Linked DNA regions of Homo sapiens: region 2 is linked to region 1. Evidence: fine-mapped expression QTL. Tissue or cell type: whole blood. Region 1 holds a variant in brackets; the other region holds the start of a gene. All regions are shown on one strand. Distances are from middle to middle.

The links. PIP is the estimated chance that this variant, and not a neighbour inherited with it, causes the effect.
Region 2: DRC8 starts here. The variant in region 1 is fine-mapped to the expression of DRC8 in whole blood (TOPMed, PIP above 0.99).

Annotation. Positions count from the first base shown.
Region 1 is chr1:245,087,656-245,095,762 of GRCh38, reverse strand. It overlaps DRC8 (dynein regulatory complex subunit 8), which reads right to left. Exons shown (of 8, transcript NM_032328.4): 8 at 7,926-8,107. Among named protein-coding and RNA genes, the nearest start is that of KIF26B, 63 kb to the left of the region's middle. The variant C/T (reference allele first, on the strand shown) is at 4,415.
Region 2 is chr1:244,965,684-244,973,776 of GRCh38, reverse strand. It overlaps DRC8 (dynein regulatory complex subunit 8), which reads right to left and starts at 4,095. Exons shown (of 8, transcript NM_032328.4): 1 at 3,734-4,095; 2 at 3,334-3,448. The coding sequence starts at 3,358. It overlaps LOC124900416, which reads left to right and starts at 3,207. Exons shown (of 4, transcript XM_054328428.1): 1 at 3,207-3,451; 2 at 3,453-3,522; 3 at 3,525-6,804; 4 at 7,969-8,093. The coding sequence starts at 3,240. The coding sequence ends at 3,791. EFCAB2-AS1 (EFCAB2 antisense RNA 1) reads left to right here and starts at 2,908. Exons shown (of 2, transcript NR_111907.1): 1 at 2,908-2,965; 2 at 3,798-8,093. RefSeq lists enhancers at 2,433-2,802, 5,241-5,745 and silencers at 2,973-3,062, 3,073-3,432, 3,443-3,622, 3,893-4,032.

The DNA.
Region 1 (8,107 bases):
TATTGGTCACAATTTATTATAATAGTGAAAACTGAAAATTATTTAAATTATGAAGTATGAGGAACTAATTAAATAGGCCAGGTGTGGTGGCTCTAATCCCGGTTCTTTGGGAGGCCAAGGTGGGAGGATTGCTTGAGGCCAGGAGTTCGAGGCTGGAGTGAGCTATGATCGTGCCTCTGCACTCCAGCCAGGGTGACACAGTGAGACCTGTCTCTAAATTAATTAATTAATTAAGGTATCTCCAAACAATAAGATACTATCCAGTCACTCAAAGTTATGTTTTAGGTGAGTACACACTATCATGGAAAGATTGTTCCTTATGTATTCATTTAAAATAGCAGATTACATAATAGCATATATGGTCTGATCCTGTAGTATTGTCGTGTTTATTATTTATTTATTTCTCTTCCCCAATAGTACCCTGATTTCTCACCAGAGTATTTTCTCCCTCCAGCGGGGTGTAGCTGGTGGTTGGAGGATTCCTGCCTTCCACATGGCTGCCTAGAAGCAAGGTCCTTCCTTGCCTGCCCAGGCCAGACGGAGCTCAGCTCAGTGGGCTGTGTCTTGCAGGCCTTGAACCTGAGCCAGTGCAAAGCCATCCCCTGCAGCAGCGGCCCTGCACGGGCTGTTCCGGTTGTGTGATGTTTGCTATCCTCTTGCACCATGCTTCCTTGCCCTCAGATGCCCCCTTGGCTCCTGTTGGCCTGAGCCTGGTGCCCCAGTCTCCAGTAGGCTCTGTGAGCACTCTTTCCTCAGCCCAGGTGCCTTCCAGTGAGTCCTGCTTTCTGTCCTTATGGTCAAGGACCCTAACTGATAGGTTCCACAGTGATATTATTCTAAAGAAGTTCTATAGAGAGACACATCCTTGGAAAAAGCTTTCAGAAGAGATGAAGCAAAGCATTAGTAATGGTGGTTAACTTCTGTGGAATTAAGGGGTTTTCCTCTTCTTTTTTGTTTACTGGCATTTTCCAATTTCTCTTTATTGCTTGGGAGCCACTCTAGTAATTTTTAGAGTATTTTACACTTTACATTGTTTTTCCAAAAGAGCCCTTCCTGAGAAGATTCTCTAACGTAGCCATCTCACAGTGAGGTGCCCCTGCAGGGAACGCAAGATAACTCCTCAGGGTGCAGGAAGAAAACCAGGATTTGTTTTAATTTATATTTATGTTCTGTGTTAGAGTTAAATCTCATTGACATCTTCCTGGGGTCCATACAGCAGAAATGCATGTACCAGGAATGCACGTATCAGGAAGGCAGGCGGCTGTCCTGAAGGAAGCTCGGGGAGCCTTCGCTCGTGTACTCATTCCACCTTGCTTATTTCCGTGCAATCACTAACCGTACAGGTGGCCAACTGAGTGAAGGATTTGCAGATGTTATTTGGTTTTAATGACACCAGTCCTCAAAAACTGATAAGAGGCTTAAAAAGTTCCTAAAAAGTAACCTCGAATTGAAGATATCCCAACACCTAAGCACAGGGGGGTTTTCCGAGAACAGTGGGGCCGACAATTCCACCAGGATGAGCTCTTCATCATGTTGTGTAAGAACAAAGACAGGCTAATCGGATTTGATAAAGAAGAACTAAGAAAACTTAAACATTATCAAGACTAGTTGGAAAATAGACTTACCTCTATTCTCATTAACAGTGAGCTTTGCCTAAGTGCGGATCATACCTTGAGTTAGTAACCAGGAATGGTTACCAGCCAGCAAGACAGTTTAAAACTAGGCATTCAGAGCATGGAAACACATCTTGACATGTTTAAAAGCTGTATTTAAAGTCATGCAATACTCACCTATACTTCAGTACATTTCCTAAGTTTGGTGATAAATGCTTAGAAGCCTCTTTTGAGATTTCTTACTAATAGCTGAAAACTTAATGCCGGGGCGTGTGGGGGGAGCCAGCAAGATATATTTGGCATTTTGACCTGCCACACATATAAAACCATGGCCCGATTTTCATAGTGTGCTATTTTATCTTATCTCCTTCTCCACAGAACTAGGTTTGGCCTCAATTTTTCAACTTGTGATTTTTCTTTTCTTTTCTTTTTCTTTCTTTTTTTTTTTTTTTGTGAGATGGAGTCTTGCTCTGTCGCCCAGGCTGGAGTGCAGTGGCACCATCTCGGCTCACTGCAACCTCTATCTCCCGGGTTCAAGCAATTCTCCTGCCTCAGCCTCCCGAGTAGCTGGGATTATAAGTGCACCACCACGCCTGGCTAATTTTTGTACTTTTGTGGAGACGGGGTTTCACCATGTTGCCTGGGCTGGTCTCATACTCCTGACCTTAAGTGAACCGCTCACCTCAGCCTCCCAAAGTGCTGGGATTACAGGCATGAGCCACTGTGCTTGGCCTGATTTTTCTTTTTTAAGAAAAATAACAGTTTCTTCAAATGATTAAGAGTGTTTTCTCCACTAGATGAGGTAAATAATTCCTGCTGCTCTAAAAGTACCATGACTGATAGCACATTTTTAAAAGAAGAAAAAAAGAAACCTCTTAAGGCCTCCTGTTTTCACATTCTAGAAATAAACTTAACGCCTTATAATTAATAGCACCATGACAGCAAACCTCGGCTATCTCCCCACCAGCAGCCCAGGTATGCGCACGTTCTCTCCAATTAGTTTTCTATTATTTACCTACTTCCCCACCTCCCTGTCCACACCCAGGCAGCAGATCTCCATCCCTGCCCCTCCCTCTCTCTTTTTCTCTCTCCCTCTCTGCCTAGCTGGCTTTCTGTAAATAATTATTTGTGTCATAGCTTACAGCTTTTTAAACATTTTCACTTTTATTATTTCATTTAATTTTCACACCAGCCCCGAAAAGTGTTTTTTCCACTTTACAAATTAAGATGCAGAAGCTCAGCAATATTTTTTTATTTTTTTGAGACAAGGTCTCTCTCTGTCACCCAGGCTGAGTGCAGTGGTACAATCATGGCTCACTGTAGCCTCGACCTCCGGGGAAGCTCAGCAATATTAAATGTCTGGGCCAATTACGTAATCAGTAAGCAGCAGAGCCTAACTCCAAATCCCACACTTTCATTCAATATCAGAGCCCCAGGTAGTGCTTTTTACACACAAGCGTGCATAAGGATCCCCTGAGAATATTAAAAATATAAGTTTCCTGGACCCTACCTCCAGAGATTCTGTTTCAGGGGTCTGGAATGGGGCACACCTCCCATTTCTAACACCCTCCTTCCAGATGCTCCTGAAGCAGATGATTGGCAACCATGCTTTCAGAAATAGGCAGGCCTAGGAGGCAGCCACCATGCCTGGCACCCATGAGGCTCTCCGTTTATTTAAGCAGCCCAGGAGGGTAAGGTAGTGACACTGATCTTCAAGGAACTGTCTGTATAAACAGGGTACTTTCTTACATGGAAGGATTTAGAAAAGCGAAAGGAAGGAAGACAGGAAACTAGGAGAGAGAGATCTAAACACATTCCATCCCACAGAAAATACTCCTGCCCTTAACGAACAGTCGTAATCCCAACTAGCCTGCTATCTTGGACTCTTTTTTGTCTCTTGGGCATTTGGTACTTAGACACTGGGTGACTGCAAAGGGGACTAAATCTCTGCATTGCTTCTCAGGAGGGAGAAGGACTAGAGCTGGGCTCTCTATTTTACAGACAGAGGTGCACAGGAAGTGAAGCGCCTGATCCAGAGTGAGTCACACATGAAGCTGGGATCAGAGCACAAGATCGCCAGACTCTCAGGCCTGTGTGTCGGGTCCTGAGTCATGCACCTTCCCCAGCAGTGTGAGAATAGAGATGGCTTTCCACAGGGCCCGGCCAAGCTGTGGGGTATGGCAGGCTCTGCGGAAGCCAGGAGTCATGAGGGTAAGCAAACTTCCTGCACAAGAGGCCAAGCACTCTCCTAGTCGGGAAATGGCATATGGTGACTTACATCAGATGCTGCGGGCGAGGTCAGTGAGCTGAAGAGGCAAAATACACATTGAAGTGATTTGAGTGTAAAGGAAAATGTTCCCTTTGCAAACAAGGTACGTTTATTCTGCAACTTAGGAGATAAAATGAGATTTCTGTGGGGAGTCTATGTTGTGCTTTCTGGTGGCCTTAAAAGAAACAGACAAATTTGTGCTAAAGATAAAAATGAATTACATTCCACAAAGCCAACTCTATGAGACTAAACAGAGAGGATTGCCTTGAGACAAGATGTGAAGTTGAACATCAGTCCGAACTTTTGAAAGAACCCTCGAAGGTGGGGCTGGGGAGGTAGGCAATCTCGACGCAAGCTTCCTCTACTGCCTTCTGTGCAAGAGGGTGTCTCCTCGGAGACAGAATATGATGTCATCACTTGATCATCAAGAGATTAGGGTTCATTCACCAGACTGTACTTCTTTAATGGCTTACAGGTCTTAACGCAGAGCTGTCCTGTATGCTCCAAACAAGTCCGTGCCTGGGTCGACGCA[C/T]TGGGCGCTAGCACACGCCTCAGTGCTGCATGTCCGTGCTGGCCCCTGCCACCGAATGACATGCCCCTGGGTATGCGTCCACCTTGAAGGGTATTTCATATCTCAGCCATCCTCCTTCCCCGCTGCAATGTGTTCCTATCATCAACAGCCTGTCTGCTGATGTTCCGAGGATCACCACACTCCTTTCCTCCTCCGTCTCCGCCCTGTCCTGAAGGCACGCGGTTCATCCTCATCTCTGGCTGGTGATTCTAGCATGCACGGCCGAGCCAGTGGCACATCAGGTCTCTATTTGGATTTTACCTTGGGAAAATCTCAGGTTATCCTGGGGAAAAAAATGATCTTGGGAAACTAGAGAAGGAAGAAATGCCTTCCATTCTTACCACTGCTGGAATTATCTGTCAGGAAGCCTTCCAGAAGTGACGATTCCTCACCACCGTTTTTACTCACTATTTTTTGAATGGGATGACCACATATTAATCATCTAAACTGGAACATTTCTAAGAGTACAAAGGAGACCTATTAATAATTACACTGGGACAGGTATAGTCTGGAACTACCACGGGCAAAGCAGGACAGACGGTCATCCTACCTCTCTAGGCCATGAGTAGGACAAAGACACGTAGGCCAGAGTCCAGGATGACCCCAGCTGACCAAAAAAAAAAAACGTAAACAGAAATAAGCTTCATTCTTGCAAACCTCTGACACGTGGGAGTTTTGTTATCACAATATAACCTAGAAAAAGCTGATACAGCCACTTACTGCTGTGTAACTTCTTGATTGTCACCTTTCTAAAATGGGGATAACTTAATAGCACCTGCACCGATGGGTGGATGTGAGGATGAAATGAGTTCATGTACGTCAAGCACTTAGGACAGTGCCTGCAACGCAGGGAACAGTCAACAAACGTCAGCCACTCTTACTATTTATTCACATAATAACACAGGAGAAGAAAAGAAACACTCTAAGAACACATCGAAGCGAAATTTCAAGGGAAACATATTATCACTCAGGAATTATCACTCAGGCAGGAAAGACCACCCCTTGCTACCAACACCAGCCACTTGCCCTTTTAGGGCCCCGAGCCCTCTCACCCCCTCCCATCTGTCACCCACTCCTCCTACCTGTTACCCACTCCTCCTACCTGGGTCTTTCCCTCATGCGTTAGCCCCACGGACACCATCGGAACTGCTTTCTCCCAGATTCCTCGGCCTTTGATTCCTTCCACCTCACGCACATGACAAAACCTTAACCCTGGTACAACAATCTACCTTTTTCTTTTCTTTTTTGCTCCTGAGCACAAAATCTTCCAGGGTTTCTTGAAAATCCTTACATGGGCTCTTTCTCAACTCTTTCTCCCATTTCCCACAAGAGATATTCCAAAATTACACCATTCTCTTGAAACTCTATAACCTACTACCTTCCTCTCCAAAAGGCAGCAGAGGCCATGAGGTAGGGACCACAAGCGTTGGTTCATTGTTCCTAAATCTCTTTATTGCTCTGGAAGCTGGCCCCTCCCTTCACCTTCTCTGTGGGCTCTCAGCCCTTGGACTAGAAATGAACTTGCTACATCCACCCATCTTCCAAAAATCACTCCCCGAGCCTGTTGTCCGTTTCCTCCTCTTCACTGCCGAATAACTTGTCCTCCAGGCTGCAACCTTCTCACATCCATTCCTTACTCCATCCACTCAACTCCATACCCTGTTGCTTCCCCACATCTGCTGTGGGAGAGGCCCTCAATGAACTCTCCATTGCTAACACCAATGGACGTTTTTTCCGTCTTTAACTTCCCTCTCCTCTCCACTACATCTGGCATGGCCACTGCCTCCTCCTTGCAATTCTCTCCGATCTTGGCATCCAAGATGCTTCTTTCCAGCTTTCCCTCTTCTCAGGCTTCTCCTTCCCAGTCTCTTTTGTGGGCTCTTCTTCCTCTGCCTTCCCGTAAATGCTGATATCCCCCATGGTTTTGTTCTAGACTGTCTTCTCTTCTACTTTCAAGGCATTAATACTACTTACATGCTGACAGTTCCAAAATCCAGGTCTCCAGCCAGATCTCCCTCCTATATCCAATTGATTATTGAATGTCACCCTTTGGGTGTCCCAAGGTGTCTGCACCCAACCTCATCATTTTGCTTACCAAATGCCCCACTTGCTCCTTGGACTTCTTATCTGAATGAATGGCACTTTTACCCATCGTCCGAGCCAGAAACCTGGGATTCATGCTTGACTTTTCCCAGTCTATCCCCTCCCACCAACCAAATAGCCTACAAACTGGTCTCACTTCTAGTCTTGACCTTTCAAATCTATTTTCCATGCTGCTTACAAATGATCTTTCTCTGTGATCTTCAGAATAAAGTCCAAACTCTCACACTGAAACCTTAACTCAGCACCTAACCCGATATCCTTAATGATACCGCTCCTGTTTACCACTCCAATTTCACCTCTCATCATGACCCCCAAATCTCCCACATTCCAAATATACTGAGCTGCTTTCAATTCCCAGGTGGTTCCATGTTTCATGACACCTCTAGGGTTTCTGGACTTGCTGCTCACCTGCTGAAATGCCCTGTGCCCCGCCACCCACTTACTAAACTACTCGTTTTAAAGTCAGGAGCTTCCTGTCCTGGGAAGCCTTCTCCGCTCACTAGCACCTTTCATCTTCCAGAAAGCTCTCTCCCTGCAAGGCTGAGTAGCTGCCTCTCTTCGGCACTTGCACGGGACCCTGAACATGCCCCTATCTGAAATGTGGCTGCTGACTGCCTTGCAGGCTTCCCTCACTAAACTGTGACCTGGATTCGTTAGGGACTCCGGTTCCCAGCACATCATCTCATGGTACTCCTTCAGTGTTTCATGAATGAATGAACAGCGACAGTCTCTTGGGTAGCAGCCGCCTCTTTTGGGGGCAAGACTACATGCCTGAGGAAGGCTCACAGCAACTCTAAATGTTTACATCTATGTAGATACACACATATAGTGGTGAAGCCATCTTCAAATAGAGACCCGTGTGTGTGTGTGTGTGTGTGTGTGTGTGTGTGTCTTGTTATAACAGAATATCTAAGTTTGGAAAATTGTTCACTTCCCTTTACTTTATCTTCCCCTTTGCTTGTAAGTTGCCATATAGTTGCCATATAAGATGCCAAGATCGGAGAGAATTGCAAGGAGGAGGCAGTGGCCATGCCATATATTTTTCCATTGTGACTGCTTGTGCTTCATTCTGCTCTTTCAGGAGCTGTACATTTGCACACCATAACATTTCTCAGTATTCTTACTCAGTATTCAGGACAATGCTCCCATGACAGATATGCGGAGTGGGTGAGAATTCTAAAGACAAAGGGAGAATTGCCACTACCTTACACTATCAACTTCCACTCAACCTTCTTTTCTCTAGTTCCAATGATCTCAACTCCTTTAGCTACTCCATAAATGGTGACATGCTGGATCAGCAAATATAAATGTTTACACTAAGTTATTATTATCCCAAATGATATTTGTAATTGGCACTCATAAAAAAATAAATTAGTAATATTTATTTTGATAAATCACCTTCCACACTCAGATTGATGAAGCATTTGTTATTGTTTAAAAAAGAAGCCTTCATTACACTGCTACTCGTTTTCGAGTGGTTCGTTCTGCCCCCTCTTAAGATCTTTACATGCCAAACCTTGGGTAATTAAGTCATTTTCATTTTGTCAGCTT
Region 2 (8,093 bases), 120 kb after region 1:
CTGAAACTTATTCCCCCTTTAGAACTTTTAGAAATCTCAATATTAAGGATGAACTATTTAAAACATATGTGTATTTCTACAATGAGGTTTTTTGTAGTTGTTTTTTAAAGACATGCTAGTGAATACCGTGGCACTGTGAAATAAAACGTTTTGTTGAGCCAGATGGAATAGAAGAATGTATCTTACCGGTAAAGCAGAGGGGAAAAGAGACCTAAAACGAGTTTTGTGTACTTTTAGGTATAGAATAAGTTTGGGGAAAATAGCTAGGAATGCTTTGGTTAAAATCTCATAAGCTGTCTTTGATTAATTCAAATGTTCTGAATTCAACAAATATTTATTGATTACCTACCACGTTCCAAGCACTCTGCACAACACTCAGTATTAACAGATCAGAAATGGTCCCAGATCTTTTGGAACTTAGAGGGTACTGAACACATCCTTCAAAATTATCCTTTCTTTTGTGTGATTCCACGGTCATCAAATGACTTCTGAAATACAAATTCACACTACCCGAAGCTTAGTACCCATAAAACAGTATATTATTATATTAGTATATTGCCAAAATTATTATATTAGTATATTGGCAAAATCAGCCTTCAAGTCAATGTATATACCCTTATTTAAATTAATAAATCATTCAGGTTTGCACATCAGTCTTTTATGAGTTTAGTTGAGTGAATCCTCAAAACTTAATCAATTCTGATTAATTGGTTAGACGTAATTTCTGAAAATTCAAAATACAGTAGCTGACAATCAAATATAGTAATAGACTATTTCCATAAAAAGATCTTACCACCAAAATGAGTCTCTACTTAGTTTATCCTCTAACAAAATGCCTTTATTTCATAATACCCTTCACAAACTGCAATTAGTTAATCCATAAAACTGTTAACAATAAATGAGATACAGCACATGAGTGCTTCTCGAACTTTGTTTTTTGTTTTTGTTTTTTTTTTTTTTTGAGACGGAGTCTTACTCTGTCGCCAGGCTGGAGTGCAGTGGTGTGATCTTGGCTCACTGCAGCCTCCGCCTCCCCGGTTCAAGCAATTCTCCTGTCTCAGCCTCCTGAGTAGCTGGGACTACAGGGCGTGCCACCACGCCCAGCTAATTTTTGTATTTTTAGTAGAGACGGGGTTCACCATGTTGGCCAGGATGGTCTCGATCTCTTGACCTCGTGATCCGCCCGCCTCAGCCTCCCAAAGTGCTGGGATTGCAGGCGTGAGCCACCGCGCCCGGCCTTCTCGAAAGTTAATGTACATACAAATCACCTACAAACATGTTAAAATGAAGACTGATTCATTATTAGGTCGGTGGCAGCCAGTGATGTCCAGGCTGCTGTCCACGGACTACAAGGATACACACCTAGCACAGTGGTTGGCACCCAGACTACTCAGCCCAGTTAACTATTTCCTCCCATTTGTAAATTTCTCATCTCCCTTACTCATCTCACCTTCCTTGGAAGCAAAGACAATGTCTTTCATTTTCGTATCTTTCAAAGTTCTAAGTAGAATGCCTTATCTACATAATGGCATTGAATATATGTATTCTGAATGAATGGCATCCAGCTTTTAACAGTCATTACTTCTATGAGTTATCGACAAAATTGTTTCTCTGAATTTACTTTAAATGGAAAAAAATTGTTCAAAAGCTGAAAAATCAGGAAAGCTCTCAGTTTTTAAAAAACGAGAAATACTGTATTTGTACCATACTCCAGTGCGTTTTTTCTCATGCTGACCTAACCAAGTCTTTTTTAAGAAAATAAATATCCATAATTACCTTGCTAGTTTATCTCCTAATGGCTTTTTTTTTTTTTTTTTTGGTAAAGAACAAAAATAAGCCATCCATTTTTCTGGGAAAGTTTTAAAATTATCCTTTTCTTTGTATGTAAGGGCATCTTCGTAAAGCTAATACCTACAAAATAATCCTGGCTTCTCAGATTAATATTACATAAAAATCACGGTATCCTTGTTATCAATAGAGAGATCGTTGGCAGTTTCATGTGTTTCTTCGCCGATTTTCTGTGATCACCGGAACAAGTGACTAAATATCTCAGGGTTCGTTTCTTCCCTTGTAAATATTAGCTGTTAACCTGACCACACTTGGTTCTATGCTGAGAAAAATGGTTTGAGAGGGTGTTTTGAGCACTCCAGAAAGAAAACAAAGGACGAATATTATTTTCACTTCCTACTTGTTTACCTTTACTGTTTCATGGCTTTTTGGATATTTTTGGGTGACTGCCAACTATCAAACACAATTATTTTTTAGTACCTAAGGGCATGGTAACAAAGGATCGGGTTTTAATCATACCATGAACTGAAAACAACATGAACGGTCTTGCAAATAAACGTAATCACTTTTTGGCTTCTCCGCACAGACAACACATCGATGCCTCCGAACTGGCGACCTTAAGCCTCGAAGCGCAGTCCCGCCTCTGCAGGCGGCCACCGCGCGGGGCTGGGTGGTCCCCTGGGAGAGGCCCGGCCGGCGCACAGCGGTTCCAAGATCTCAACCAGGTTTTGGTTTTTCGTCGTTATTAAAATTGCTGTTTGGGTGTGTGTCTTTTTTTTTTTTTAAGACAAGACACTAGGCCAATTGCGCGGCGCTAGCCGGCGGCGGGGCAGGCATTTCGGAGGACCGGGAAGCTCGGAGGCAGCGGCTGTGACCTCCAGACCGTCCTCCTGCGTCCTCATTAAGGAGGCAAAATGGTGGCCGCGAACGCCATCAGGCTGCGCCAGCGCGGGGTTTCGGCGCAAACAGAGGATCCCGTCAGATTCAGGCGGCCAGAACTCCTCCTCACCCAGGCCACCCCCCGGGGCCCACAGCCTGGACAGCTACGGGCGTGGCGCCTGCGGCACCGAGACCCCAGGCGAGAGTGTGGAGGCGGCGGCGGCTTCCCCGCGACCGTGAACAACGACGCCATTATCAGCACCCCCTGCCGGCGCCTCCGGCGCAGCCCGCGCAGGATGCAAGGCCCGGCCTCCGAGGGAGGGGGAAGGAGGACGGGGCGGGAGGAGGGGAAGAGGGTGAAGAGGGCGGGAGGAGAAAGAAGAAGGCGGGAGGAGGGGAGAGAGAAGAGGGAGGGAAGAGGGGAGAGAGGCGGGGCGGGGCGGGGGAGAGAGGCGGGGCGGGGCGGGGCGGAGCGGCGGGCCGGGCGGGCTACGGGGACGGGGGCAGGGCGACTGCTGCTGCCGGGTGGCCCCCTCCTCAGGCCGCCCTTTCCCTGCGGGTGGGAACTCCAGATGGACGAGGGCCCACCCCACCCGGCGCTTCCCCGTGCAGCCCGGGGTCGCGGCGGGCGGCGAGGGCAGCGGCTCCCCGGCTCCCCTACCTTACCTTCCCTGTCCTTCTCGTCCGCCATCTTGCTGCGGAGCCGGTCGCCTGGGAGATGCCTAACGATAACCTCGGCCGCGGTGTCCCGGCCTGCTCAGCGCCCCGCGGCGAGCCTGGCCTGGAGGAGGGGCCGCTCTGAATCCCGGGGGAGGAAGACCCTTGGGCGGGGCGGGGCGGGGAGGAGGCTCCGAGCGCGCGCCCTGTCCCCGTTTCGCGCCACGACCCTCGCGCTGGGGGAAGACCAGAGGCCCCGTCTGCCACCCGGCCCCCGGCCTTGTCCCTCCAGACCCGAGGCCGGAGCCGGACTTGTCCCGGGCCTAGCATGTTGCTTCATCACACGGTCCCCAACCCCTCCTTTCCCTTATTTCTCATCCATTTGGGGACAGCACGCGCGCGCACACACCCCTCGCCCCCTCCTGTCCTGTTTGTGCGACGTGGCGTTGCTCGATTTTTGTTGTTAACTGCAGATTTTGAAAAGCGCCGGAGAGCTAGGTGAAGAGCTGGGCTCCCAAGGGGGTGATAGAACCAGCCCGCGGCCCGGCCTCCTCCTCCCGCTTCCCATTCGCAGCCCGCCTCCCGCCGGGAAGCGGCCCGGCTGCTGCAGAACGGCCGCGCCTGCCCTCCCGGTTTCTCCCGTCCAGTCTTCACCGTCCTTTCCCAGAGAAAGCGACAGCACAGCCTATGACAACCGAAGCTAAAACGGAAAAACTGGGCCGGGCGCAAGAGGAAACCAGAGCCATTCGACTATTGCTAGAGGAGAGGAATAGCTGCAGGAAAACATGCGCAAAATAGCACAAACATTGCGTCGTCAAGGCTGCAATGTCTAATACAAAATAGAAGGTTCTCATAGCAACAAAAACGTGCCCATGTTGTGCTCAGTATTACATGCGTTAAAATGTTCTTAGTTGTGAAATTTGACATGACCGCTAGTTAAAGTTACAATGGAAGTTTTAAATCCCGCTTTCCGAAAACTTTGCAGCTATAGCATGAAGTTAAATTTTTGTCTTATTTTCTGGATAAGTTTACTATACTGGAACATAGTAAAGCTCTTTTTATAAAGAGCTTTGAATAAAATACCTAATGATGTGGTTGAAACGAACACCTATTTTCAAAACTAATCTTAAGTGGTATTTCAGTGCATATGTTATGTAAAAGCAATTTATAAACTAAATTTTAAGAGCCTTCAAAATACAAGGTACTCGTATTTAATGACTTAACAGTTTTAATGCTTTTATTGTTTCTATAATCTCTCAGGAAATCCTAAAACTGACTATATTTTTCTTTATTAAAATAACTTTTTCTGTAGAAGATACCCATTTGGCGCTGTGATCAGCATTCTACTTGAAATTGAATATAAACAACTGAATCATTACAAAATGGCTCATGTTAGAAGATACTTAAAACGAATACAATCTTGTACAGTAAATGTTTAACACCCCAAAATAACGAAAAGTAATTATTAGCATTCATTTATATCTAAATCTCAGTCAATATGATCTAAATATTTGTGTTTAAAGACTCCCCCTTTCCATATAGATAATGAAGGGCTTTGAAATAAGTGTAGGAAACCCTAAGTTTGGTCTCAGGCTTCCTATTCATTCACTATGCTTTTTCGTGTGCTGTTTACAGTTTCCTTTTTCTGGAATGCCTTTCCCTGCTTTTTTCCCCCGCCAACATTTCAGCTTCCCACAGACACACATTTGTGCCCTCCTGGTTGTCCTGCAGGATGACCTTTGTTTTTGTTTTTGTCTTTTGTTTTTCGAGACAGGGTCTCGCTCTGTCGTCCAGGATGGAGTGCAGTGGTGTGATCTCTGCTCACTGCAACTTCCGCCTCCCGGTCTCAAGTGACCCTCCCACCGCAACCTCCCAAGTAGCTGGGAGGAGCGGCGCGCGCCACCATGTCTGGCTAGTTTTTGTATTTTTTGTAGAGACAGAGTTTCCCCATGTTGCCCAGGCTGCTCTCAAACTCCTGAGCTCAAGCGATCTGCCGCCTGCCTGGCCCTCCCAAAGTTCTGGGATTACAGGTGTGAGCCACTGTGCCTGGCCAGGATGACCTTTTTGAAGTCACCTAGTCATTGAAGCTTTCCCTCTCAGCCTTTTCCTCTGTGGCCCCATGCTTATAGAGCCTCCCACATTGATTTGCAGTGCCTTCGTTCGTTCACTTTATTTCCACCTACCAAACAGTAAGATCTTGAAGACAGAAACGGCATTATTCGTTTATATATCCCCGGTATCTAGTACAATTTTTCTGTTTGCAATAATAAATGTCTTAAAACTTAAGAAAGGAGTAAGTCTTCTCAATGACTTTTTTTAAAAAAGACCCAGATTCAGCACTTATTGTATGTAAGACAGACCTTCCTTTTACATTACATTTTTCATCAGTAAAAGTACTGGGCCAGGCGCGGTGGCTCACGCATAATCTCAGCACTTTGGGAGGCTGAAGCGGGTGGATCACTTCAGGTCATGAGTTAAAGACCCACCTGGCCAACATGGTAAAACCCCATCTCTACTAAAAATAGAAAAATTAGCCGAATGTGGTGGCTCACGCCTGTAATCCCAGCTACTCGGGAGGCTGAGACAGAAGAATCGCTTGAACCCAGGAGGCAGAGGTTGCAGTGAGCCGAGATCCGCCACTGCACTCCAGCCCAGATGACAGAGCAAGACTCCATCCCCAAAAAAAGGTACTAGTATTTCATGTTAATAAAATGGAATTCTTATATAAACATATATAAATTAAAAATTATTTTAAGAGTTGAACAGATTTCTCTGCAAATCCCCCTATATTTTTATATTTTTTAAACTAACTGTATTCAGCAAAGCTTTTTATTATTTAATTTATTCCAAACCACATTAATCAGTATTTCTCTGAACTCCTACAGCACATTTAAAACAGTACTGTTTCTCTAGGTGTGGGTGAGTAAAAAAATATTTAATATATGTTAATTAACTTCCGCATCTCCTGACCCCACTAAGGTTTGAATAGGAGCCTCCCCCTTTATAAACCCTTTTTATATACCCACACTACCTAGCCTAATTGGGGCACATATTAGCTGCTTCATACATACTTTTCAACTGCCTAATTTGCTGATTAGGCATAAAAGTATATAATTCTGGAAAAGTCTCCACAAGGTGAAAATGATTATCCAAATAATAAAGGCCCACAATGCCAGTGAGTACATTATCTGCATTATGCTGATATTTGACTCCTTTCAACTCTCTTTGGTTGTAGAAACATGACCGATGATTATATTACACTTTTAACTCTTTAAATATTATTAGCTTGCTTTGGACTGTGGAAAACTAACTACAATCATTTTTATTCCTCAGAATATATTTTGCGGCCGGGCACGGTGGCTCATGCCTGTATACCCAGCACTTTGGGAGGCCGAGGTGGGCAGATCACGAGGCCAGGAGTTCGAGACCAACCTGGCCAATATGGTGTAACCCCGTCTCTACTAAAAGTACAAACATTAGGTGGGCATAGTGCTGCAAGCCTGTAGTCCTAGCTACTCAGGAGGCTGAGGCAGAAGAATCACTTGAACCCAGGAGGCAGAGGTTGCAGTGAGCCAAGATCATGGCATTGCACTCCAGCCTGGGTGACAGAGCAAGACTCCATCTTAAAAAATATATATATATATATAGATAGATAGATAGATAGATGTATATATACATATACGTATACATATACGTATATGTATACGTATACATATATGTAGAGTATATATACATCTACGTATATGTATACTCTACATATATGTGTATATATACATATATACTCTACATATATACACATATATATGTATATGGCTTCTGAGCTATAGCTTGAGTAACTTGTTAACTTGTAATACTTGAGTAACTTGTAATATTGTATGCTGCCAAAGCATTTTTTCACTTAAACATCTCATCGTGATTTTCAGAAATTTAGAATCGGAAAATCGTTTTTGATCCCACTCATGGATATATAAACTTAGGGCTAAATCAGAAAAGCAAGCACATAGTTTTAGACAATGACACTTATTTGCTTAATTACTCTATGGAGCCAGGTGGATATGTACAGGTTATGTCCTTTTGCATGCTTGAATTTATAGTGAGTTGAATCTGTTCAGACAGCCATCAGTGATGTGTCCGTGAGGAACACAGAAAATGTTTCTTTTTGTTTAAAGGAATTTATTTATTTACTTATTTTTACTTTTTTTTAATCATACTTTAAGTTCTAGGATACATGTGCACAACGTGCAGGTTTGTTACGTATGTATATATGTGCCATGTTGGTGTGCTGGACCCATTAACTCGTCGTTTACATTCGGTATATCTCCTAATGCTATCCCTCCCCTCTCCCCCCAAAAATGTTTCTTTTGAATGCAGTTGACTCAGTTACCTAAGATGTGAGTGAAGTGGAAAGGGTAAGTGGTGGGAATAATGCAAAATGATAGTTTAAAAATCCTTCATGCCCTGTTTACTTTCCTAATATGGAGATAATTGAAATCTGGACTGGGAATAATTTTTTTTTAAAAAAACTGGATTTTCCTTGGGCATTGCCATTTACTAATCTCATGATCCTGGGCGAGTCATGTAATCTCTTTAAAACTTATTAACTCATAAAAATAGAAGTAACAATGTCCAAACTTCCTATTTTAGAGTTTTCACGAGGCGCAATAGATGTAACTGAAAGCTTCGAGAAGTTTAAAGGACTTGCAAGGAAATCTACTGAAATAAGCCCCATTCCACCTGGGCAGAAGCACTCAGACGCCAAACCCCACCTT